Homo sapiens: one gene and its partners. The protein of the gene in region 3 purifies or fractionates together with the protein of the main gene of each other region. This does not show direct contact. Each region holds a gene or a part of one and is shown on either strand. Other genes may lie near its edges.

Region 1 (5,311 bases), on a different chromosome or scaffold from region 3:
ACATAAGAATGGACAAAGGTTTCATGACAAAGACACCAAAAGCAATTCCAACAAAAGCAAACACTGTCAAGTGGGATCTAATTAAACTGAAGAGATTCTGCACAGCAAAAGAAACTATCAACGGTAAACAGACAACCTACAGAATGGGAGAAAATATTTGCAAACCATATGCATCTGCCAAAGGTCTAATATCCAGCATCTATGAGGAACTTAAACAAATTTACAAGAAACAAACAACCCCATGAAAAGGTGGGCAAAGGACATGAACTGACACTTTCTAAAACAAGACATACATGCGGCCAACAAAGATATGAAAAAATGCTCAATATCACCGATCATTAGAGAAATGCAAGCAAGTCAAAACCACAATGAGATACCATTCCACACCAGTCAGAATGGCTATTACTAAAAAGTAAAAAAATGGAAGGGCATAGTGGCTCACCCCTGTAATCCCAGCACTTTGAGAGGCCAAGGAGGGTGCACCACTTGAGGTCGGGAGTTCAAGACCAGCCTGACCAATATGGTGAAACCCTGTCTCTACTAAAAAATACAAAAATTAACCAGGTGTTGTAGTGCATGCCGGTAGTCCCAGCTACTTGGGAGCCTGAAGCACGAGAATCGCTTGAACTCAGGAGGCAGAGGTTGTAGTGAACCGAGATCACGCCACTGCACTGCAGCCTGGGCGACAGAGCAAGACTCCATCTCCAGAAAATAAATAAATAAATAAATAAATAAACAAATAGTCAAAAAATAACAGATGCTGGCAAGGTTGCAGAGAAAAGTGAACACTTAGACACTGTTGGTAGGAGTGTAAATTAGTTCAACCATTGTGGAAAGCAGTATGGAGATTCCTCAAAGAGCTAAAAGCAGAACTACCATTCGACCCAGCAATCCCACTACTGGGTATACACCCAGAGGATTATAAATCATTTCATCATAAAGACACATGCATTTGTTTATTCATTGTGGCACTATTCACAAAAGCAAAGACATGGAATCAACCTACATGTCCACCAATTGTAGACTAGACAAAGAAAATGTGGTACATATACACTACGGAATACTATGCAGCTATAAAAAGGAATGAGATCATGTCTTTTGCATGAACATGGATGGAGCTGGAGGCTATCATCCTCAGCAAACTAATGCAGAACAGAAAACCAAATACCACATGTTTTCACTTGTAAGTGGGAGCTAAATGATGAGAATTTATGAAGACAAAGAAGGAAAAAACAGATACTGGATTCTACTTGAGGGTGGAGGTAGGGAGGAGGGAGAGGATAAGAAAAGATAACTATGGGTACTGGGCTTAATTCCTGAGTGATGAAATAATCTGTATAACAAACCCCCATGACATGAGTTTACGTCTGTAACCAACCTTCACATGTATCCCTGAACCTAAAATGAAAGCTAAAATAAAGCTAAAATGTGTGTGTATATATATATATATATGCATATATATACATATATGCATATATACGCATATATATACATATATGCATATATACGCATATATATATGCATACATATGCGTATATATGTGTATATATACGCATATATGTATATATACACATATACATATATACATATATGCGTATACACATATATATGAATATATATGTATATATACACATATACATATATACACACACACCACACATATGTGTATATATATACACATATATACACATATATGTGGTGTATATATATACACATATACACATATATACATATATGTACATACATATATGAATGTTTTTAAAAAGGCTGCGTCTAGGTTGGTGGGATTACATATAGGTTTTTTTTTGGTTGTTTGTTTATGTTTTTCTGTATTTTCTAAATTTTGTATAATGAGTATTACTTTTACAATATATACACATTTGTAAAAGTTTTAGTGCTCATTTTGTTGTCCCATTATTTGTTAACTGTATTTAAAGAAATGTGTTAACTACAATGATATTTAGATTATAAAATATCAAGAAGTTACATATTATTTAAATTATGAAAGATAATGAGAGAAAAGTTGAAAGAAATCTTTTATTTTAACACTTCTATAAGTTAGCCATATTTCAATGATTCCATTTGGGAACCAGTGAAGCATGTGTCTTATCCCCTTCCTTTTCCTCTCTCCTATTTGTGCCTGGTTATTGTTAGGTTCTCCTTTCTAGATTTCTCCACCAAGTGATGGCAGAGGAAAAGTTAACCATTCTTTTGGATATAGGTACAGTTTCTCTCACCACGTTTCACTATTTAGAAAAGCAGAGCTGCCTTCAATAAGACTAAAACTATTCAATTGCTGTTAATAGTCCTATTTAAAATTTAAAAACACTTCTCATACATTCCTTTTATTTAACTGGTAAATTTGAAACAAAGAAAGAATGGACAACTAGTACATATCATCTCTAGATTTACCTCTTGGTATAATCCAGAGCAAGTCTTCTCTACCCTTCCGTTACTAGGAATAATTAAGAAAAGACTATGTTTTTGGTTGCAAAACATGGATCTAGAGGTCATATTTATTCATATTATATCTCTAAGACCCAGAGTTAAAATTGACAGAGGTTACAGGATTAGTGGTAGATGCTAAATAATAATTCTTTAGTAATCATGCACAAATAGATTTAAATTCATAACTTAGATCAAATTAAAAATGTAAAATTAGATCAATAAACTGTTTTTACAAAAGTCCATAGGGATGCATGTCTCATATTTCTACTTCTTATGTGTTGATATTATGAATATACCTTGCTGAGAATTATTTCTGGAGCCAAATACTCTGGAGTTCCACATAATGTCCAAGTTCTGCCTTTAACTCTTTTGGCAAACCCAAAGTCTGTGACCTATAAAAGAAAAAAAGAATACTAGTGAAAATGTATTACCTCACAATAAATGTATTTATTGCACCTACGTTGAAAGTTTAAAATTCAAATTGAAACTATGAAAGAAATGGAAAAAAAATTAAGTCCACGTAATTGAAATTCATTCATGAATATCTAGTGAATGAAAGTTTAAACAATCCAAGTTGGAAATCCTTCCTCAACTCAAAGAAAAGGAACAAATTAATAACAACAAAACTCTTTTCAGTCATTATTATAAGATCCTAGACCCAAGGAATAAAAAAGTGAAAATAAAAGGTAAAAATAAATAGCATTAATAAAAATGAAACAATGCTAAATGTCTGCCTTACCCCAATGTGTCCTCTGCCATTAGTTGCACCATCAGAAGTGTAAAAACGTCAATGGGAGAATCTATCAATAATTGTGTAAAAAGAAATGCTCCCACTTTATTAGTAGTAGAAGTGGAAAGAAAACGTTGCTACGAGTTCAGTATTGGTAGTCAGGGATTCTTTGGCAGTTATATTGTAGTCGTAAAGGGCATGGACTCTGGGATCAGACTGCCTAGGTTCAAATTCTGACTCTACCATTTATTGGCTAAATGACCTTGCTATGTCTTAGTTTTGTTAATCTTAAAATGAAGATAACAATGGTATTTCCACTTCATAGGTTTATCAGGATTAAAGAAATAATACATGTAAAACAAGTGGAATATGCCTGGCACTAATAACTGCTCATAGATTTAGCTATTAATATCTCCTTATGCAAGAGGCTATACTCAGTTCACAACTATAGATTAATGGAGATATAAACAAGTTCCTTTCATAACAGGATTTTTGCTTCTCTGTAATAGCAGCAAAACTCTGAGCTCTACTTAAACTATTAGGAGAAAGTGTCTTCTTCAAAAAAAATTCCAAGTTGGGGTTACATACATACAATGTCTTGCCTAGTATTTTCTCATATACAGTACACATAATGTGTTAAAGTCATACCTGGATATAGCCTTGATGGTCAATTAAGAGATTTTCAGGTTTTAGATCTCTGTAGATGAGGTCTAGTGAATGGAGGTACTCGAATGTTAGCACTATCTGAGCTGCATAGAACCGTGCATGGGGCTCACTGCAAAGAAATAAAACCATTGATTTTCTGTAAAAATGAGTTAATACATTCTAATTAGTAGATTATGCATAAAAACTAATATGAAGTAGAGGTACTTTGGGAACAAAAAGTATTTTTTTAAAAAGTATGTAAAGAACCTTGTTACTTTTCAAATATTTATTAAATCTCTATATTTTGTTCAAATAACGCTCTGATAAATTTATGGGGAAGCATATGTTGAGGAAAAATATAAACCTAAAATAGTTAGCTCATTGTGAATCATTATTGCCCATATTTAAATATATTGATGTCTTTCTAATTATGTCTGATCTTGAGAATAATTGGAAAGCAAATGTGCCAAATGGAGTGTCTATCGGGGCCACTGCTATAGTTAACAGGCTCCATCTACTTTTCTCACAAATTTCAAGTGTTTATAGAATTTCCCTATGTAGAAGCTCTTTAGCTGCATTTATCTGCAGATTAATGCCATTTTACCCATTTTGTAATAGTTCCTGTTACAAAAATGACATACGCTCGTTATGGAAAAATATCATAAAATATTGATGAAGAATAATGAATACTCATAAACCTATTCAGAAACCATAGATACAATCTTGGCATCAGAATTTCCAAATCTTTTACTATGCTTGTTTACATAGATTCACAGACATAAGTATAATCTCTATGTTAGTGTAAATACGTACAGTTCTTTTTTTTTTTTTTTGAGACACAGTCTTGCTCTGTTGCCCAGGCTGGAGTGCAGTGGCACAATCTTGGCTCACTGCAAACTCCGCCTCCTGGGTTCAAGCGATTCTTCTGCCTCAGCTTCCTGAGTAGCTGGGATTACAAGCGCCCACCACCATGCCCGGCTAATTTTTGTATTTTCAGTAGAGACGGGGTTTCACCATGTTGGCCAGGCTGGTCTCGAATACCTGACCTCAAATGATCCACCCGCCTCAGCCTCCCAAAGTGCTGGGATTACAGGAGTCAGCCACCGCACCCAGCTAGTTCTTTTATGTATATATTAGATTAATAGATCAGTGTAATTTTGATGTCAGAATCTGAAAAATCCAAAAGGATGTACCAATTTTCTGAGTTTCTAATTTATCTTCTAATGTATTACTTGAATTCTACTAATCTGCCTGATAAATAACAATGACTTTCAGATTTGTTTCCTCAGTGAACAACCTTAACTATGAATAGGATTTCCCTCAAGATGGTTGGTATGAATTTGATCTGGTAGCAAGAGAAATACAAATTCCAACAAAAGACTTTATGTGCTGCCTTTTTTTGCTTGTCACTGCATTTCCCAAGTGCTCAGTAAATATTTGTTGAAAGAATGCATATGTAAAGAAAAATGCTTTTGGGGAGCAAAATTT
Region 2 (4,702 bases), about 62 Mb from region 3:
TGCTATTGAAACCCAACCTGGCAACACATCTCTGCCTCAGGAAAAGCTAGAGTACCAGTAAGAGGGAAAGGCAGAAACCATTAAAAAGACCTAACAATTCAGAAACAGACATGGCATCAAAAGAGCTACCACCAGGTTGACTGGAACTGCAGTACAGGCGCCATGCTCCTTGTGCCTGTTTTTCAGATTTAAAATCTGGATTATAGACACCAAGCTTGAAAGGACAGACATGATAAATAAGATTTTCTGGTTTAAAGAAACATTTAGTATGATATAACATTTCAGGTTATCACTGAACAGCATAAACATCAATCAATAAAACCATTAAAATCCGTATGACCTCCTCTGGATGAAATTCAAATAGGAATGATGCTGTCACACAAAACCCAGACGGCTTTCAGTCATGTCTAGGGATCTTCTTCTACCTACTCAACAAGCAGACACCCTGCCCCTCCAAGGGACCCAGCAGGACTTTTCTGAGCACACACTCAAGAAGGCACGGAGAGGACCACGCAGCTGAGTGGGCAAGGGCAGGTGGCCCTCAGGTGGAATCTGGACTCAATGGCTTACTAGTTATGGGATGGTGGACAATTCACCTGACCTCTCTATGTCTCTGTTTCCTCATCTACTGACTAAGAAGAATTCTGCTCTCTGAGGCTGCTTGGGAGATTACGTGAAGCAGCCTCTTAAAGCACCAAAGCAGTGTGCCTGGAACATTGGGAGCGCGCCAAATAAGGCAGTCCTCGCCACCCTCACTGCTGTTAATGCGAGCCGGCAGGTGGAAAGTCTAAACCTAACCAAATCTTCTATCTCTCTCAACAAACTGTCTTAAGTCCAAACATTCTGGAACAGCAGTAGTGAACCGTTTACTCTTCAGAGGCAATAACAACTCACAATTTTCTCAGGACACTAGATTAGCTGAGTAACTAAATCATCATTCAGTCCCTCATTCAACAAAACAAACGCTCATTGCTCCAAAGAGGCCAGCCAGATTAGACCATTTCAAACATCTTTTAATTGAACTGAACATGAAGAACTGCATTCTGCAAGAAACAGATCAAAATGGGATCGTAAGATCTATTCCATATATCTTCTCAAGGAAAAACGTTAACAATATCACACATTTCAAACGTATATGTTCTTAGCAGGTGAACATAAAAAATCATATAACACTCTGTTATATAACTAAAAAGAAGTTACCCACGCAGCTTAGCTTTAGAATTAAATGAGATTTATTGATTGTATCTTCCCAAGAGTTACCAATGGCTAAGGTACAGGCTATAAAACATTCAGACAAGAACAGGCTCAAGAGTATTTGGGGTTTGAGTATTCTTTGTGTCTTACAAAAATAAGACTATATATATATATATAGAGAGAGAGAGAGAGAGAAAGAGGGAGGGAGGGAGGGAGGGAAGGAGGGAGGGAGGGAAGAAACAAATGCAGATCTGTTTCTGCTGCTTCAGGGCTATTCAAGAGCAATAGTCTTAAAAATTTTTTCCTCCAGGAGTGAGACCATTCCCCAGGAAAAATGTCTCACTGGCTTGTTTAAGAAGTATGATATCAAACCTGGAACTCCACAGGAAACAAAACCTACACAGAGGCCACCAAAGGACAAAAAGAGCCTCTGCATCAATGGAACTCAAGCTTTGTTTTTATAAAACATATTGGTCCAAAGTGCTGATGTCATTTCAGTGGTAGGCTAGTGCTTCACTTTACAAAAGCACGTGTTAAAAACTTTTATTTTGGCCAGGCGCGGTGACTCATGCCTGTAATCCCAGCACTTTGGGAGGCCAAGGTGGGCGGATCACCTGGGGTCAGCAGTTCAAGACCAGCCTGGCCAACATGGTGAAACCCCATCTCTACTAAAAATACAAAAATTAGTGGGGCGTGGTGGCGGGTGCCTGTAATCCCAGCTACTCAGGAGGCTGAGGCAGGAGAATCACATGAACCTGGGAGGCAGAGGCTGCAGTGAGCCGAGATTGCACCATTGCACTCCAGTGGGGAACAAGAGCGAAACTCTCTCAAAAAAAAATGTAAAAAAAAAAAAAAAACTTTTATTTTACAACATAACTAGAAGTAGTACTACTTGCTATTTGTTTTCCACATAAAAAGTCGAAGATCTGACCTCAGAAAATTCTCTCATGGATTGAGGCAAGAGGAAGGCCTGAGGGCAGTCAGCAACCCACTTTTCGGGGCAGTTTTGTTCATGCCCCTGAGCAGACCCTGGCATTCCTGCCCAGCATTCCTGTCTAGCTCCTCTCTATACCCAACCAGCTACCACCCTCCTCGATGCCACCATGCCCACAGTGGGCCTGGGGTGCAGTGGGGTCTGTGTGTAGATATTAAAGCTACAGCTTCTGTTTATTGTTTTGGGCTAATCAAAGAGCTACAGAGCACACAGGTGTTAGTTGGTGGGCCTGCCCTGAATTCTAGACATTAAATACATGCAAAGTAACGTCCATTTAAAACTCAATCAAGAAGTAAAGTCACTTATCCATCCAACAACCATTTACTGAACTCCTAAAATACACAAAGCATCAGGAAGGACTCAAGATACATAAGAAATGGTGTCTTATCTAAAACACAATCTAACAGATAACAGATTTCCAAGCATCTCAAAACCAAAAAGGACCTACATTTTTTCTTTCGGGGGACCAGGGGCAGTGATCCTCAGCCTCTGTGGCAAGGATGGGCAGCACCGGGCCACAGGCCTCACACTGCTGTCACTCCATGCACCCAAGGGCAGATGAGTAAGGCAAGAAAAAACAATTTGTTGTCTGGGAGCTGAAGCAGGATCTAACAAGGACCCTGAGTGACAGGGAAGATCACCCCACAGAAAGGAGATGCAATGGTTAGCTCAGGTGTGAAAGTAAGAACAGGCTGCCACGTGGGGACAGTGAGAATGGCAGGGTAGTCATGCACACAGAAACGGTGATACTGGTCTAGAAATGTCTGAGAGTCAGGCTGGAAACAGGAGTCAAAAACAACTCTCAAGTTTCCATTCAATATGAAATCATTTTTAAACATACCAAAATCTTTTCCGTTCTTTAGAACAGCAGAAGAACTGGCCTTACCTTCACAATATCCAATCCTCCCACCAGCTCCCCTTTCACATACAGCTGAGGGTATGTTGGCCAATTTGAGTAAGCTTTTAATCCTTGCCGAACCTAAAGAAACAACAGGAATCCTGAAACCATCCTATCAGGCCCTTAAGATTAAAGCTAAGACAAGGGTGAAACATCAAACACAGAACTTACTTCTTCATCCTCCAATATATCGAATGTTTCATATTCAACACTGCAAAAAAGAGAAGACATTTTAACTGGAAATACAGTTAAATCAAAGTGTAAAACCTCTATGCATTTGATGTTTTTAAAATAATCAAGAAAACCGTTTCACTGCTAACAAAATGTACTACAGACCAATGGAAATGATTTTACTTCTTAATCTGTCTGGTACTACACAGAATTAGTCATTCCAACATATGACTTTATCTGGATTTTTCTCCGGACAATATTGGGTTAGACCAGGGGTGGGCAAACTTCTTCTTAAAGAGTCAGACACTAAACACTTCAGGCTTTACAGGCCAGACAGTCTCTGCTGCAACTGCTCAGTTCTGCTCTCTGCTGCAACTGTCAGCATAAAAGCAGCCACAGACAATGTATAAATGAAGGGATGTGGCTATGTGCCAATATAACTTTATTTACAAAAATGGGCAGCCAGCTGCAACTTGCCAACCCCTGGATCAGACCCACACCCCCATCTGCACGAGCCTTCATTAACTGAACACTCTTACCCACTTCTAATGTCTAACCCACCCCAGGCTGCTGCTTCTTAACCTCCTGGAAGCTGCCCGTGCAGCAGGATGTAGTAGTGCTCGTGGACGGAGGCTGGAGGGCTCAGCAGCCGGATAACAACCACGCTGCCAGCTCCCTCCACCTTAGCAAGAGACATGCTTTCCACACTTAAACTTATTTCAGAGAGGGTGCTGTTTTTAATGTACAAAAGGCCAATGAAAGCTTTGTGGCTTTATACCATACAATGAACATTACTTGTACAAAAAATGAAAAATCACTGCATGAATATCCAACTGTATCCACTCAGAGCGATTTCACCGTTAGGTGGTCAGGTATTAGCAAGCATGTATGCCTAAATCCTTGCAGGGTGCCTGAGGGTACAGGTGCAATTCCCAAAGGTGGCCAAAGAAAATGCTACATGTAAAAAAAACTGGACTTTCCATAAAACTGAAACCATCATAGGGAAATCTTGTTTATTTAGTAAACAAGTTCCCAAGGAAACTGTCTATGGTACAGGGAACAGTCAAAAAAACTAAATGACGGGATAAATCAGAAGCAATTACCAAAAAAGGAATGTTTGAAAGAAGAACAAAAAAAGACCCCAATGTAAACCTAATGCTTTTTAAAAACCCCAATGTAAGTCTTTGTTCAAGTTGAACTAAAGGTGGCAGATCTCTTAATACTGTGATAAAAACAATGAGTTATACAACTATTCATAAAGGATCCAGGAAGCACTGGGCCCAAGTGTATGTATGTGGAGTCCTAACAGCCAGTATACTTCCTAAAAGTTATTCATAAAGGGTACCTTTCAAACCTCAATATACACTTGGTTCTCAACCACTCATGCATGTGTATTTTGGCTACTAAAGGAAAAGATAAGAAATGAGAAAAAGTAAAAAGGAGTT
Region 3 (3,205 bases):
TTTGTCCTATCTAATCTATAACCCCTCTCCATGATCAAGCCCATCCTGTGTGCCCTTCATAAATCTCTTTATAATATCAATGCTGCTTGGTTTCAGCTTTCTAGCATGATCAATACTTCACTTGTCACTATCAGAAAACATGCGGCCGGGCGCGGTGGCTCACGCCTGTAATCCCAGCACTTTGGGAGGCCGAGGTGGGTGGATCACGAGGTCAGGAGATGGAGACCATCCTGGCTAACATGGTGAAACCCCGTCTCTACTAAAAATACAAAAAAAAAAATTAGCTAGGCGTGGTGGCGGGCACCTGTAGTCCCAGCTACTCGGGAGGCTGAGGTAGGAGAATGGCGTGAACCCGGGAGGCAGAGCTTGCAGTGAGCCAAGATCGCACCACTGCACTCCAGCCTGGGCGACTCCGTCTCAAAAAAAAAAAAAACAAAACATGCTAGATAACCCTGAGTTTAATTATTATTCAGTATTAATAATAATTGACACAGTTAAGATCCATTAGTAGAAAAAATTTATTAAATAAAAAACTTCAAGTAATAATTTAAAAAAACACATGAGGTAGAAATAAAAATTTTAACATATTTAACACTCATTAAAAAAAACCCTCAAGAGAAATGGAAGATTTCCAAGCCCCAGAAGAATCTGTTACCCCAAGAATCTTTTAACCTTTGTTAAAATCTGTTACTTTTTATATATATAATATAATCACTTTGAGACAATTTTGTTTTACAAAACATCTTTACACAAAAAAGGGAAAACTGAGTGATACCCCCAAACATAGGGGCATATGAACATATGTGAAAATAGGAATCAACTTTTTAAATTTATTATCAATTCAGAAAACAAAATTTGTTGCAAAAGATGATGTAAGAATTATTTTCTTTTATATCAAAATCTACTCTAGAATACTGAAATACTGAATACTGAAAACAAAAAAGGAGGATAGTAAGGGAGGATAGAAAATTAACAGGAAGTAATCAATTCATGTCATAAAAGACTAGGTTTAGAGTGAAAACACATCTGATAGCAGAAAAAATCCTAGCAAAATGGGCTTTGGATTAGGGACCTCAAAATACAGAAAAGAATCACACTTATGTTCTCATCATCACAAGACTGTGCTTAAATGATGAAAACAAATCAAATCCCTTTATTCAGTCTTTCAAATAAAGTTCTTACAATGATATCTACAAAATCAAATTAGTCCTGAAATGTCTGACTTAAAAGTTTAAAGCTCAAAGTCAAAAGTTAATCCATCTTCAAAGCTGGTAAAAATTTATCAAACTCTTTCTCTAGGTTAGGCAAAAATGCATGCATAGAACCCATAAATTCAGACTTTTCACAGTTTTCGGTACACCTGTGCTTTAAAACATAAATACTGCATTAAATTTTGTATGGTGATAGAATTTTCTGTATGGGCACTAGCTAGAGGAGATACTGCCCTAGTATGAAAAGGCAAGGGAAATAGTGTTTTATTCTCTTTGAAAGTCACCCAATATGTGGCAAAGACTTTCATGTTCTCTTGATGGAAGATCAATGATGTAAAATAAATTAAGGAAGAAATATTTAGCACAATATGGAATGGCATAAATTTATGACATTATTATTTAACATTTTGTAATTTGACTTACAGGACCACAAAAAAAAAATAAGGATCTTTATGGCATTCAATGAATAATTATGCCTTTAAGCAACAGGAGTTATTTATCTTTTTTTTTTTTTTTTCTGAGATGGAGTTTCACTCTTGTTACCCAGGCTGGAGTGCAATGGTGCGATCTCAGCTCACCGCAACCTCTGCCTCCTGGGTTCAAGAGATTCTCCTGCCTCAGCCTCCCGAGTAGCTGGGATTACAGGCATGTGCCACCATGCCCGGCTAATTTTGTATTTTTAGTAGAGACAGGGTTTCTCCATGCTGGTCAGGCTGGTCTCGAACTCCCAACCTCAGGTAGTCCGCCTGTCTCAGCCTCCCAAAGTGCTGGGATTACAAGCGTGAGCCACCACGCCCAGCCTCAGAGTTATTTATCTTAGCCTACTTCATACCTTCATAAGAAGTATGAAGTTCTTATGAAGCCTAAGAACTTCATACACTGTTTTTTTTGTTTTGTTTTGTTTTGTTTTTTGAGACGGAGTCTCGCTCTGCCACCAGGCTAGATCTCGGCTCACTACAACCTCCGCCTCCCGGGTGCAAGCGATTCTCCTGCCTCAGCATCATGAGTAGCTGGAACTACAGGCACACGTCACCATGCCCAGCTAATTTTTGTATTTTTAGTAGAGACGGGGTTTCACCATGTTAGCCAGGATGGTCTCAATCTCAACCTCGCAATCCACCTGCTTCAGCCTCCCAAAGTGCTAGGATTACAGGTGTGAGCCACCAGGCCCAGCCCATACACATTTTTAAAAAACGATTTATCTTAAGGCCAGGTGCAGTGGCTCACCTCCTCTCTATTAAAAATTTTAAAAAATTAGCCAAGCGTGGTGGTACGTACCTGTGGTCCCAGATACTCAGAAAGGTAAGGTGGGACGACTATTTGAGTCCAGGTCAAGGCTGTAGTGAGCAGTGATCCTGCCACTACACTCCAGCCTGAGTGAAGTTAGGCACCACTTCTTGGGGGAAAAAAAGGCTGAATGTGGTGGCTGACACCTGTAGTCCCAGCACTTTGGGAGGAGGCGAGTGAATCACTTGAGCCCAGGTGTTCAAAACCAGCCTGGGCAACATGGTGAAACCCTGTCTTTACAAAAAAATACAAAAATTAGCTGGGCATGGTGGAATGCACCTGTGGGCCCAGCTACTGGGGAGGCTGAGGTAGGAAGATCACTTTAGCCTGGGAGATTGAGGGTGCAGTGAGCTCTGATCATATCACTGCACTGCAGCCTGGGTGACAAAGCAAGGCCCTGTATATAAAATAAATAATACTCCATTTTAATCTAATCATTTGTTCTGGATTAAAAAAGGGTTATAGGCTGGGGGCCGTGGCTCACATCTGTAATCACAGCACTTTGGGAGGCCTACACAGGAGGATCGCTTGAGCCCAGGAGTTCAAGACCAGCTTAAGCAACATAGTGAGAGCTTTAATTTAAACAAGCAAATAAATACTCACAACAGTGCAATCAAATGTGACCATATACAGAAGAAAAAGGATATTAATTTTTCTGAGTTTAAATGATTAAGCAGCTTCTCCAAAGGAGGATAGCAATTTAGTGA
Region 4 (5,311 bases), on a different chromosome or scaffold from region 3:
AGTGGCTCACGCCTGTAATCCCAACACTCTGGGAGGCCAAGGCAGGCAGATCACTTGAGGCCAGGAGCTCGAGGCCAGCCTGGCCAACATGGTGAAACCCTGTCTCCACTAAAAATACAAAAATTAGCTGGGTATAGTGGTGTGTGCCAGTAGTCCCAGATACTTGGGAGGCTGAGGCATGAGAATCACTTGAACCCAAGAGGCGGAGATTGCAGTGAGCTGAGATCGTTCCACTGCACTCCAGCCTGGGAGACAGAGTAAGACTCCATCTCAAACAAAAAAAGTCATTCTTAGCTCATGTATCACAATAGTCAAACAGTTAACTCTCGACTTACACAAAGGAAAACTTTAGATATTTTCATCACTAAACAGATTATTTTCTGAGCTTCTGCTATGTACTGATTTTATCATTAAAACTAACCAGGTTAGAAAGAGCAAACTACAGAGACAGCAAGGAGATCAGTGGTTGCCAGGGGCCCTGGGGTGGGAGTGGAGATTAGTCACAAATGGGCATGAGAAAACTTTTTAGTGTGTTGGAAATGTTATAAAACCTCTTGTGGTGATAGCGGAAAAACTATATAACTCACTAAAAAAAAAAAAAAAAAAAAATTTTAAATGAAAAAATAAAACCAGGAAAAAGTATGTCTTAAAAAGAGCAGATTATCATCTCAAAATTATTTTCAAAAGACAATTTGAAAAAAATAGGATCTGCCCTTTTACTGGTCTTTAAAACGCATGTTAAGAAACAAAAACATGTAAAAGGGCCAGGCGTGGGGGCTCACGCCTGTAATCCCAGCACTTTGGGAGGCTCAGGAGGGTGAATCCCTTGAGAGCAGGAGTTTGAGACCAGCCTCACCAACATGGTGAAATCCCGTCTCTATTAAAAGTACAAAAATTAGCCGGGCATGGTGGCATGCTCCGTAATTCCAGCTACTCGAGAGGCTGAGGCAGGAGAATCGCTTGAACCCGGGAGACAGAGGCTGCAGTGAGCCAAGATCGCACCACTGCACTCCAGCCTAGGCAATAGAACAAGACTCCATCTCAAAAAAAAAAGAAACATGTGAAATGTTCTGGGATGGGTTTTTATCCTAAGAGAGCCACAATCTTAAGCTAAGCTATTTAGGAATCTTTCTGATTAGTACTTTCACCCACACGTTTGAAAAAGTAATTATGTGTACTAAATGAGAATACCTAATTTAATAAAATTCATGAAAGCAATGTTTCAGTTCACTAGCCACTGTGGATATTACAAATATAAAGGACATCTGCACTCAGGCTGTCTTCTCTCAACCTTGAATATCCTTCCCTACATTCCTCCTAGTCAAGTTTTACCATAGATCAAGATCTAGTTCTAGGCCAGGCATGGTGGCTCACGCCTATAATCCTACCACTTTGGGAGGCCAAGGCAGGAGGACTGCTTCAGGCCAGGAGTTTGGGACCAGCATGGGCAATGGGAGGAGAACGCACCTCTAAAAAAAAATTAAAAATTAGCCAGGTGTGGTGGTGCATGTCTGTAATCCCAGCTACTCAGGAGGCTGAAGCAGGAGGATTGCTTGAGCCAAGGAGACGGAGGCTGCAGCGAGCTCTGACCACACCATTGCACTCCAGCCTGGGTGACTGAATGCGATCCTTTTTCAAAAAAAAAAAAAAAAACAACAACAACAAAGAACTACATAAGTTCCCCCAACTACTCCAGTCAATGCTGACTTTTTCTTCAAAGAGTTATGATCTGCATCACACTCACAAGACACCTTGGTGTTGTCTCCTTTTTCCTTTCTCTTTTTTTACTTCAAATTCTTACAGGACACTGTAAGCAATCAAGAGTGGTGCCTTATCATCTCTGTAGTACTCAGCATAGTGCTTCACACACTGGCAGGTACTCAGCAGGTTGGTTCAGGCATAAATACTTACTTATAAGGTGCTCTCTTCCTTGCTGCCACACTTGTTAATAAGGATGACTGAAACCAACCCCCGAGCTGGTCTTTTCCTTCCAAGTACAAATCTGCTCTTTGGTCAGGACCTCAAAATTAAGTATTAAAAGAAAAAAAAACCCAGAAATTTAAGTTAATTAAAATAGAAAAAGAAGATACTTATTAATAACAATTAGTGGGGAGGAAGGGAAGTAACTTTACAATAGAGAAAACTGACAGATGCCACCTTAACCAAGAAAGTGACCAAAGTTACACATCACCAGTAGTAATGGGACAGAGATGTATCACGTGACTTCTGAAATGATGTACTGAAATAAACACAGTATCCTTTCTGTGATATTCCTACCTAAAATGCATAACGTGGATCTAATCATGACAATGCATCCCACAAACCCAGAGAGACCATCTACAAAATAAACCTGTACTGCATGAATGTCAAGCAATGTCATGAAATGTCATGAAAGACACAGAACAAGAACTAGAGAGACATGACAGTTAAATGTGACATGTGATCTCAGATTAGATCTTGGGTCCTTTTTTTTTTTTCCTCTTTCCACCTAGGAATAAGTTCTATAGACAGTTAACAGTATGGAATCAATGTTAATTCCCTAATTTTGATATCTGTGTTGGTTATGTTAAGAGACTATCCATGTTTTGGGGAAATATATACTAAAATATTGAGATAAAAGATGCATCTTTTCCTCTACATATATATACATAGGATATATAAAGCAACTGTAGCAAAATGTTAATGTTAACGTTGGGAAATCTAGATGAAGAGCATGCTGTAATTCTTCATGATACTTTATGACTTTTCAAAATAAAAGGGTTTTCAAAAAAAAGTAACATGAGGTCGTTGATAAAGATTACATCTATATTTTAAATCTAAACTCACAACTCTCAAAGCCCCCATAATCCCTTTTATTTGTAAAATTATGATTTGTCCTTATGTCCTAAGACTGAAAATTTAGTGTTGTAATCTTCATGTAAGAAAGATTAACTGAGTGGAGGTGGGGAAACAAAATTTAAATAACTGAATCAAACCAATTCAATTGCACCAATATTACTGAGCACTTGTTATATAGCAGGCATTGTGTTAGACCCTGGGGAAATCTGGACTCTGCCTTCTTGGAGCTGACACCTAGTAGGGTAGATTTTATGTTAAGCAAGAAATAACTGTGATGGGGCCGGGTGCAGTGTCTCGTGCCTGTAACCCCAGCCCTTTGAGAGGTGGAGGCTGGCAAATCCTGAGGTCAGGAGTTCGAGACCAGGTTGACCAACATGGCGAAACCCCATCTCTAAAAACACGAAAATTATCTGGGCACGGTGGTGGGCGCCTGTAATCCCAGCTACTTGGGAGGCTGAAGCAGGAGAATCACTTGAACCTGGGAGGTGGAGGTTACAGTGGGCAGAGATTGTGCCACTGCACTCTAGCCTGGGCGACAGAGTAAGAATCTGTCTCAAAAAAAAAAAAGAAAAGAAATAACTGTGATGGGTGTTACCAAGGGGAAAATAAAGAGTTTAATCTAGTCTGTGCAGCCAGGAAAGTCTGAGATAATGTAAGAAGGTAAATGCATATGCAGTGAAAACAAATCTTTAGCTAGACTAAGAAAATAGAAAAGAAGATCCAAATAAACAAAATCAGAAATGAAAAAGGAGACATGGGGCTGGGTGCGGTGGCTCACGCCTGTAAAATCCCAGAACTTTGGGAGGCAAAGGCGGGTGGATCACGAGGTCAGGAGTTCAAGACCAGCCTGGCCAAGATGGTGAAACCCCATCTCTACTAAAAACGCAAACATTAGCCAGGCATGGTGGCGGGCACCTGTAACCCCAGCTACTTGGGAGGAATGAGGCAGAGAACTGCTTGAACCTGGGAGGTGGAGTTTGCAGTGAGATGAGATCAGGCCACTGCACTCCAGTCTGGGCAACAGAGCAAGACTCCATCTCAAAAAAAAAAAAAAAAAAGAGAGAGAAAGGTGACATACAACAGACAACAGAGAAATACAAAGGATCATCACAGACTACTATAAACAAATGTACACTAACACATAGGAAAACCTGGAGGAAATGGATAAACCCCTGGACACATACAACCTACCAAGATTAAACCGGGAAGAAATAGAACAGTAAGGAGTAACCGGACTGAATAAGTAACAAAAAATCTCCCAACAAAGAAAAGTCTAGGACCAGATGGCTTTACTGCTGAATTCTACCAAATATATAAAGAACAACAATTCTGCTCAAACTACTCCAGAGCATCGAAGAGGAGGAAACTCTTCTTAAATCACTGTACAAAGCCAGCATTACCCTGATACCAAAACCAGGCAAAGACACAACAAAAAAGAAAACTACAGGCCAGTATCTCTGTTGAACAAAGACACAAAAATCCTCAACAGGCCACTTGCGGTAGCTCATGCCTGTAATACCAACACTTTGGGAGGCCAAGGCAGGTGGATCATGAGGTCAGGAGATCGAGACCATCCTGGCTAACATGGTGAAACCCGTCTCTACTAAAAATACAAAAAATTAGCCAGGCATGGTGGTGGATGCCTGTAGTCGCAGCTACTCGGGAGGCTGAGGCAGGAGAATTGCTTGAACCTAGGAGGCGGGGGTTGCAGTGAGCTGAGATCGTGCCATTGCACTCCAGCCTAGGCAACAGAGTGAGACTCCATCTCAAAAAAAAAAAAAAAAAAAAAATTCAACGTGGCCAGGCATCGTGGCTCATGCCTGTAATCCCAGCACTTTGGGAGGCTGAGCAGCGCTGATCCCTTGAGGTCAGGAGTTCGAGACCAGCCTGGCCAACATGGTGAAACCCCATCTCTATTAAAAATATAAAAATTGCTGGGCAGAGTGGCTCACGCCTGTAATCCCAGCACTTTGGGAGGCTTAGGCGGACAGATCGCCTGAGGTGGGGAGTTCTGAGTCCAGCCTGACCAACATGGAGAAACCCCGTCTCTACTAAAAATACAAAATTTGCTGGGCGTGATGGCTCATGCCTGTAGTCACAGCTACTTGGGAAGCTGAGGCAGGAGAATCGCTTGAACCCGAGAGGTGGAGGTTGCAGTGAGCCCAGGTCACGCCATTGCACTCCAGCCTGGGCAATAAGAGTGAAACTCCATCTCAAAAAAATTAATTAATTAATTAAAATTAACCGAGTGTGGTGGCACATGACTATAATCCCAGCTACTCTGGAGGCTCAGGCAGGAGAATCACTAGAACTCGGGAGGCGGAGGTTGCAGTGAGCCGAGACTGTGCCACTGCACTCCAGCCTGGGCGACACAGCGAGACTCTGTCTCAAATAAATAAATAAATAAATAAAGATTCAATGCAATTCCATGCAAAATACCAATGATATTCTTCACAGAAACAGAAAAATTCAT
Region 5 (4,748 bases), on a different chromosome or scaffold from region 3:
TCAGGAACTTCCTTGTGGACACCAACCACAAGACGTGTCTACCAGAGGGGGGAGCGGGGGGAGGGCTTCCTGGAGGAAGCAGAGTACACGTCCATTGGCTTTGCTGAGGGCCACGGGAGCTGCAGGCCACTTCAGAACAGGGTCACGTGCCCTTCAGACGTGATCAGGCATGTTCACGATCTTGGTGTGAACGGGCTTGGTGTGACCATGGACACACATGCCCTTTAGGAAGATGGCTGTGGCGACGATGTGAAGGGTGCTGCAGGACGAGACTGAACAGGGAAAAACACCGAAGGATGAAAGCAAACAAGAAGGACGTGGTGAAGGTGGGTGTTCACACAGTGGGCCAAATGGAGGAGCAAGCTTCAGGGAGAAGACACCCAAAGGACTATTGTTACTTCCTGTCGCCGTAAACATCCTCATCCACGCTACCATTTATTTCCTGTCACCGTAAACATCCTCATCCACGCTACCATTTATTTCCTGTCACCGTAAACATCCTCATCCACGCTACCATTTATTTCCTGTCGCCGTAAACATCCTCATCCACGCTACCATTTATTTCCTGTCACCGTAAACATCCTCATCCATGCTACCATTTATTTCCTGTCACCGTAAACATCCTCATCCATGCTACCATCTATTGGGTACCTAGAGATGCCAATGCTGTACCAGCATTTTACATGGCTTAACCCAAATCCTCACAACAACCTAGCAAGATAAATATGACTTTCATTTTGCACAGAAGAGCAAGGCTTGGTGAGGTGAAGTTGCTGCCAAGCACGCACCAGAGCCAGGTCACCAGCACCCACAGCCCTGCCCCTGCACTGGCCAAGGCCATGCGTCTCCAGGTCCGCAGCTGGGGGTCTGTCCCCAGAAGAGGTCTGGGAAGCAGCAGCCTGTTCTCAGAACCAGAATTAGACAAGGGAGCCAAGAGAAACCACAGCAGTGAGAAGAGTGGCACGGACAGAGCCCCGGGCTGGACTCGGAGAAGAGGGGCTGGGAGGGAGGGGAGGGGAGGGGAGGGGAGGGCTCAAGAGGGCAGATCACAGAGGCCAGAGCAGCAGCGTGGGTGAAAGTCGGGCCCCCAGGCTGAGTCAGCAGGGTGGTGGGGTGGCTAGCACAGACCGCAGGGAAGCTGAGCGGACGGATGAGAGCTGTAGGGGCTAGAGCAAGAAAATCAGTTTCAGCAGTTTTTGTTTTTGTGTTGTTTCTGTTTTTTAGAGAGATTTCAAGATGTTTAGAAGCTGAAGAGAAATATCCAATAGAACAGAACAGAGGTTGGCAAACTTTTCCTGTGAAGGGTCAAATAGTAAATATTTCAGGTTTTGGGCCACATGGTCCCCACTGCAACTCAACTCTGTCATGTAGGACAAAGGCAGCTACAGACGACACATAAGCAAATGAGCACAGCTCCATTCCAATAAAACTTTATTTATAGAAACAAGAGGCAGGGGATGTTTGCACACACGTTTGTAGCAGCATCACGAACAACATAAAGATGGAAGCAAAAGGTAGAAGCAACACAAATGTCCACTGACAGATGAATAAGTACAGCATATCCAGAAAACGCAATCAAATTCAGCCTTGAAAAGGAAGATGCTGGCACAGGCCACAACATGGATGGACCTTGAGGACTTTATGCAAAGTGAAATAAGCCAGTCACCAAAAGGCAAATGCTGTACGATTCCACGTATAGGAGGTCCCTAGAGTAGTCAGATTCATAGAGAAAATAGCAGAATGGCAGCTGCCAGGGCCTGAGGAAGGGGAAGAGGGACCTAAGGCCACAGTCTGCCGACCCTGGAGTAGACGGAGATGAAGATGACAAGACAGAAGCCAGGGCCCTGAGGATGGGATTGAGAATAAGAACTCAGAAACCCTTTCATCCAGGGAGATGGGGAGAGGACGCAGGAGGGAGGAAGGAGCTCCTGAGAGGAGGCCTGCAGCCCCGCAGGCCCAGGAGCAGTACACCGCTCACAGCCAGAAAGGAGAGGCCAGGAGGCAGGGCAGAGCCCTGGCAGGGCAGGCGCTCAGGGAGAGGGTGGGAGCCACAGCTCTGGGAGGCAGGGCCAAGGTGGCCAAGCAGCACTGAGCTCTCGCCCAGGTTGGATCCCCCCTGCACCCTCCCCAAGCTTCACGGCCTGGGTACAGGAAGGGGTGACAAGCCATGCAGCAGGCATCATGGGTCAGTGGACAGGGGACAGGCAGTTCCCTCCAGCACGGAGGGCACGACAACCACTGCAGGGCAGGCAGAGCCCACCAGCGCCCACCAGGCTCTAGGGCAACCAAACTAGATCTGAAGGGAAACTCCACGGCCCTTCTTAGACCAACCCCCTTCGATATTTCACGCTGTTTGGTGGCTCTGAAGATGCATGGAGGTTCTAGCGGGGAAGAGCCCATTTTCACTTCCTCCATACTCTGCACACAGGGCATCCAGGCCCAGAAGAGCTCAACGCTGCCTGGCATGGAGAGGTTGGCGCAGGCTGAGGCTGCTGGGCTCTGAGGACTCAGGGTGTGCAGCCTGGAACCTGCACCTCCTAATGAAATATGGCCTAAGCAGACACCAGGATCCAGAGCCCAGCCACTCCTCTCCCCAATGCTGAGGCCCTCCCGAGAGCCCAAGGCACGGCATGGAGCTCGTGCGTGACTGCGAGCAAATGCCCTGGCCTCAGGCCACCAGGTCAGGTGCAGCAGGTCTGTGAGGGACCCCGTGTGCCTCTCCTGTGGGGGCAGCATCAGCTTCCCTCCTAGAGAACCACATGGAGCAGATATGGGCGGTGCAGCAGAGCACTGCAGCAGAGGGCCAGGAGGGTCCAAGCAGTGCTGTGATCATCCGACTCTCTAACCATGAACTCACCTAGAGATGCATTCCAACCACACCTCTCTAAAATACATGTAGGTGTTAGTGGAAAACACCTGCTATCTATTTCTGACTTAATAAAGTCTATTTCATACACATAGACACATTTGGTTTACAGGCAGATGAGACAGTGATCGGGCACGTCAGCAGACAGTCTCCACTCAGGCCCTACAAATGAACCACAATCTTCCTTTCCGTTTTGCTTTCCTCTCTAAAGTCCCCCGAGAGGAGGCCCTGCCCAGGCCGGCCCCCGACTCACAGGCTCCCCAGACTGCAGAGATGCAAACTCAGCCACACACCCAAGGACGCCGCTTCTCCCCACAGCAGAGCAGAGGCTCAGCTGGCCCACTCCAGTGACATGGAGTCTGGCTGGTCAGCGACAGCCCCTCCAGCCAAGGGCTCCACCTTCAGCACGAATCCTCTGCCTCGGGACTTTCTCTAGTGCTTGATTTCTTGTATGGTCAGCCCCGCGGTATTTTATTGAAATAGATATTATTCCTGTCATCAAAATAAATAAACCTAACTAAAAAGAATCCTCTTCACTTATTTGAAGAGTGCCATTTTGGGGGACTCTTCAATATTTTTCTTGGCTTTTTATTATATGAAACTCCAAACAAATAAAAGCTGAGAAAATAAAATTATTAACTCCTATATCCATCGCCCAGTGCCTTTGCCCAATATGACCTTGCCTGCCTGCCCACTTACTTTCCAGCATATCACCCTGACCACTCAACACTCATCACAAAGAGGCACAAAGGAAGCCATTTTCCCACCCAAAATCAAGCCACCCTCAGGGTCCTGACAGAGGACACGAGGACGGGCCGCACCGCAGCCGCATACGTACGGATTCCCCATGAGAACTTCCGGTGCACAGTACTCGATGGTCCCACAAAAAGTATAAAATAATTTTCCCCTTTCCAAGTAGGCGGCCGAGCCAAAGTCTATCAGCTTGATTGTGAAGTCCTCGGCGATCACGATGTTCTCATCCTTGATGTCACGGTGGATGATGTCCTTCAAGCGCAGGTATCCCACTGCTGACACTAGCTGGAATCAGGAGGCCAGAGGGGGCTTTTTAAAAAAGCAATTCAACTAAAATATGCATTTAAAATAAACTGGAACAAAAAAAAACACAAAGAAAAAATAAACCTCCGACTCATAATGAACTGGGGACAGGAAAGATTTTTCAATGCTGAAGATATGATTGGAAGCAAACAGGAAACAAAGCCCTTCAGGAGGCGTGTTCACTGGGGATGGCCACGTTAGCCGGCAAGGTGGCAACATCAATGAGACTCGTGAGTTCTGTTTGCTGCTGAGAAAAGCTTCCCAGCAGACACTCGCCCCCACCAACGCACACCATGCCTATTTCAGGAGGAAAGACAGGCCACAAAGCCACAGCTCAAAGACACTCATGGTGGGCAAGTGAATGGGTGCAGGTTTGGTGTTAAGTGGGAAGTACCCAAGAGAAAGCACCAAGTCGATAACCTCAGCTCACAGGGAGGGAAAGTGACTTGCCCAGAGTTCAGGCAGCAATTTGGGGCAGAGCTGGGAGCACAGCCTCAGTGGCTTCTCAGAGAGCAGCATGACGTATCAGCCATCCTTTCCCCAAATGTGTGGCTACTCAATGATGCAGACTTAAAGCAGTTACACTGGAAACGGGCTTCGTTCCCACGGAGGTGCAGCTGCAGTGCTCCACTGCCTGCCCACTCTGCCTCTCCAATAACAGAGGCCAGCAACATCGGCCTTTCAGTTTAGCTCAACTAGGATGAATTAAACGTCTGACTGTCATAATTTGGACACCCATTATACCAATCAACTTAGTGACTTCATGGATGTATCATGTTGATCTTTTGAGACAAATTTATATTTACAAATGAGTATCTTTCAAATC

Evidence for each region.
Region 1: the proteins of DNA2 (region 3) and PRKACB purify together in Homo sapiens (affinity purification with mass spectrometry; 2 studies listed by BioGRID and IntAct, with this or other methods). This does not show direct contact.
Region 2: the proteins of DNA2 (region 3) and GLRX3 purify together in Homo sapiens (affinity purification with mass spectrometry; one large-scale study listed by BioGRID and IntAct). This does not show direct contact.
Region 4: the proteins of DNA2 (region 3) and IARS2 purify together in Homo sapiens (affinity purification with mass spectrometry; one large-scale study listed by BioGRID and IntAct). This does not show direct contact.
Region 5: the proteins of DNA2 (region 3) and PASK purify together in Homo sapiens (affinity purification with mass spectrometry; one large-scale study listed by BioGRID and IntAct). This does not show direct contact.

Annotation. Positions count from the first base shown.
Region 1 is NC_000001.11:84,195,258-84,200,568, reverse strand, and holds part of PRKACB (cAMP-dependent protein kinase catalytic subunit beta), read right to left. Parts: intron 3,954-5,311; coding exon 3,827-3,953; intron 2,841-3,826; coding exon 2,745-2,840; intron 1-2,744. UniProt on the Homo sapiens protein: Mediates cAMP-dependent signaling triggered by receptor binding to GPCRs.
Region 2 is NC_000010.11:130,173,462-130,178,163, reverse strand, and holds part of GLRX3 (glutaredoxin-3), read right to left. Parts: intron 3,298-4,702; coding exon 3,258-3,297; intron 3,168-3,257; coding exon 3,075-3,167; intron 1-3,074. UniProt on the Homo sapiens protein: Together with BOLA2, acts as a cytosolic iron-sulfur (Fe-S) cluster assembly factor that facilitates [2Fe-2S] cluster insertion into a subset of cytosolic proteins.
Region 3 is NC_000010.11:68,413,564-68,416,768, forward strand, and holds the end of DNA2 (DNA replication ATP-dependent helicase/nuclease DNA2), read right to left. Parts: coding exon 3,146-3,205; intron 1,545-3,145; coding exon 1,476-1,544; 3' UTR 501-1,475; downstream 1-500. UniProt on the Homo sapiens protein: Key enzyme involved in DNA replication and DNA repair in nucleus and mitochondrion.
Region 4 is NC_000001.11:220,131,111-220,136,421, reverse strand, and holds part of IARS2 (isoleucine--tRNA ligase, mitochondrial precursor), read right to left. Parts: intron 2,021-5,311; coding exon 1,912-2,020; intron 1-1,911.
Region 5 is NC_000002.12:241,108,536-241,113,283, forward strand, and holds part of PASK (PAS domain-containing serine/threonine-protein kinase), read right to left. Parts: intron 3,905-4,748; coding exon 3,705-3,904; intron 364-3,704; coding exon of another isoform or gene 164-363; exon of another isoform or gene 1-163. UniProt on the Homo sapiens protein: Serine/threonine-protein kinase involved in energy homeostasis and protein translation. Phosphorylates EEF1A1, GYS1, PDX1 and RPS6.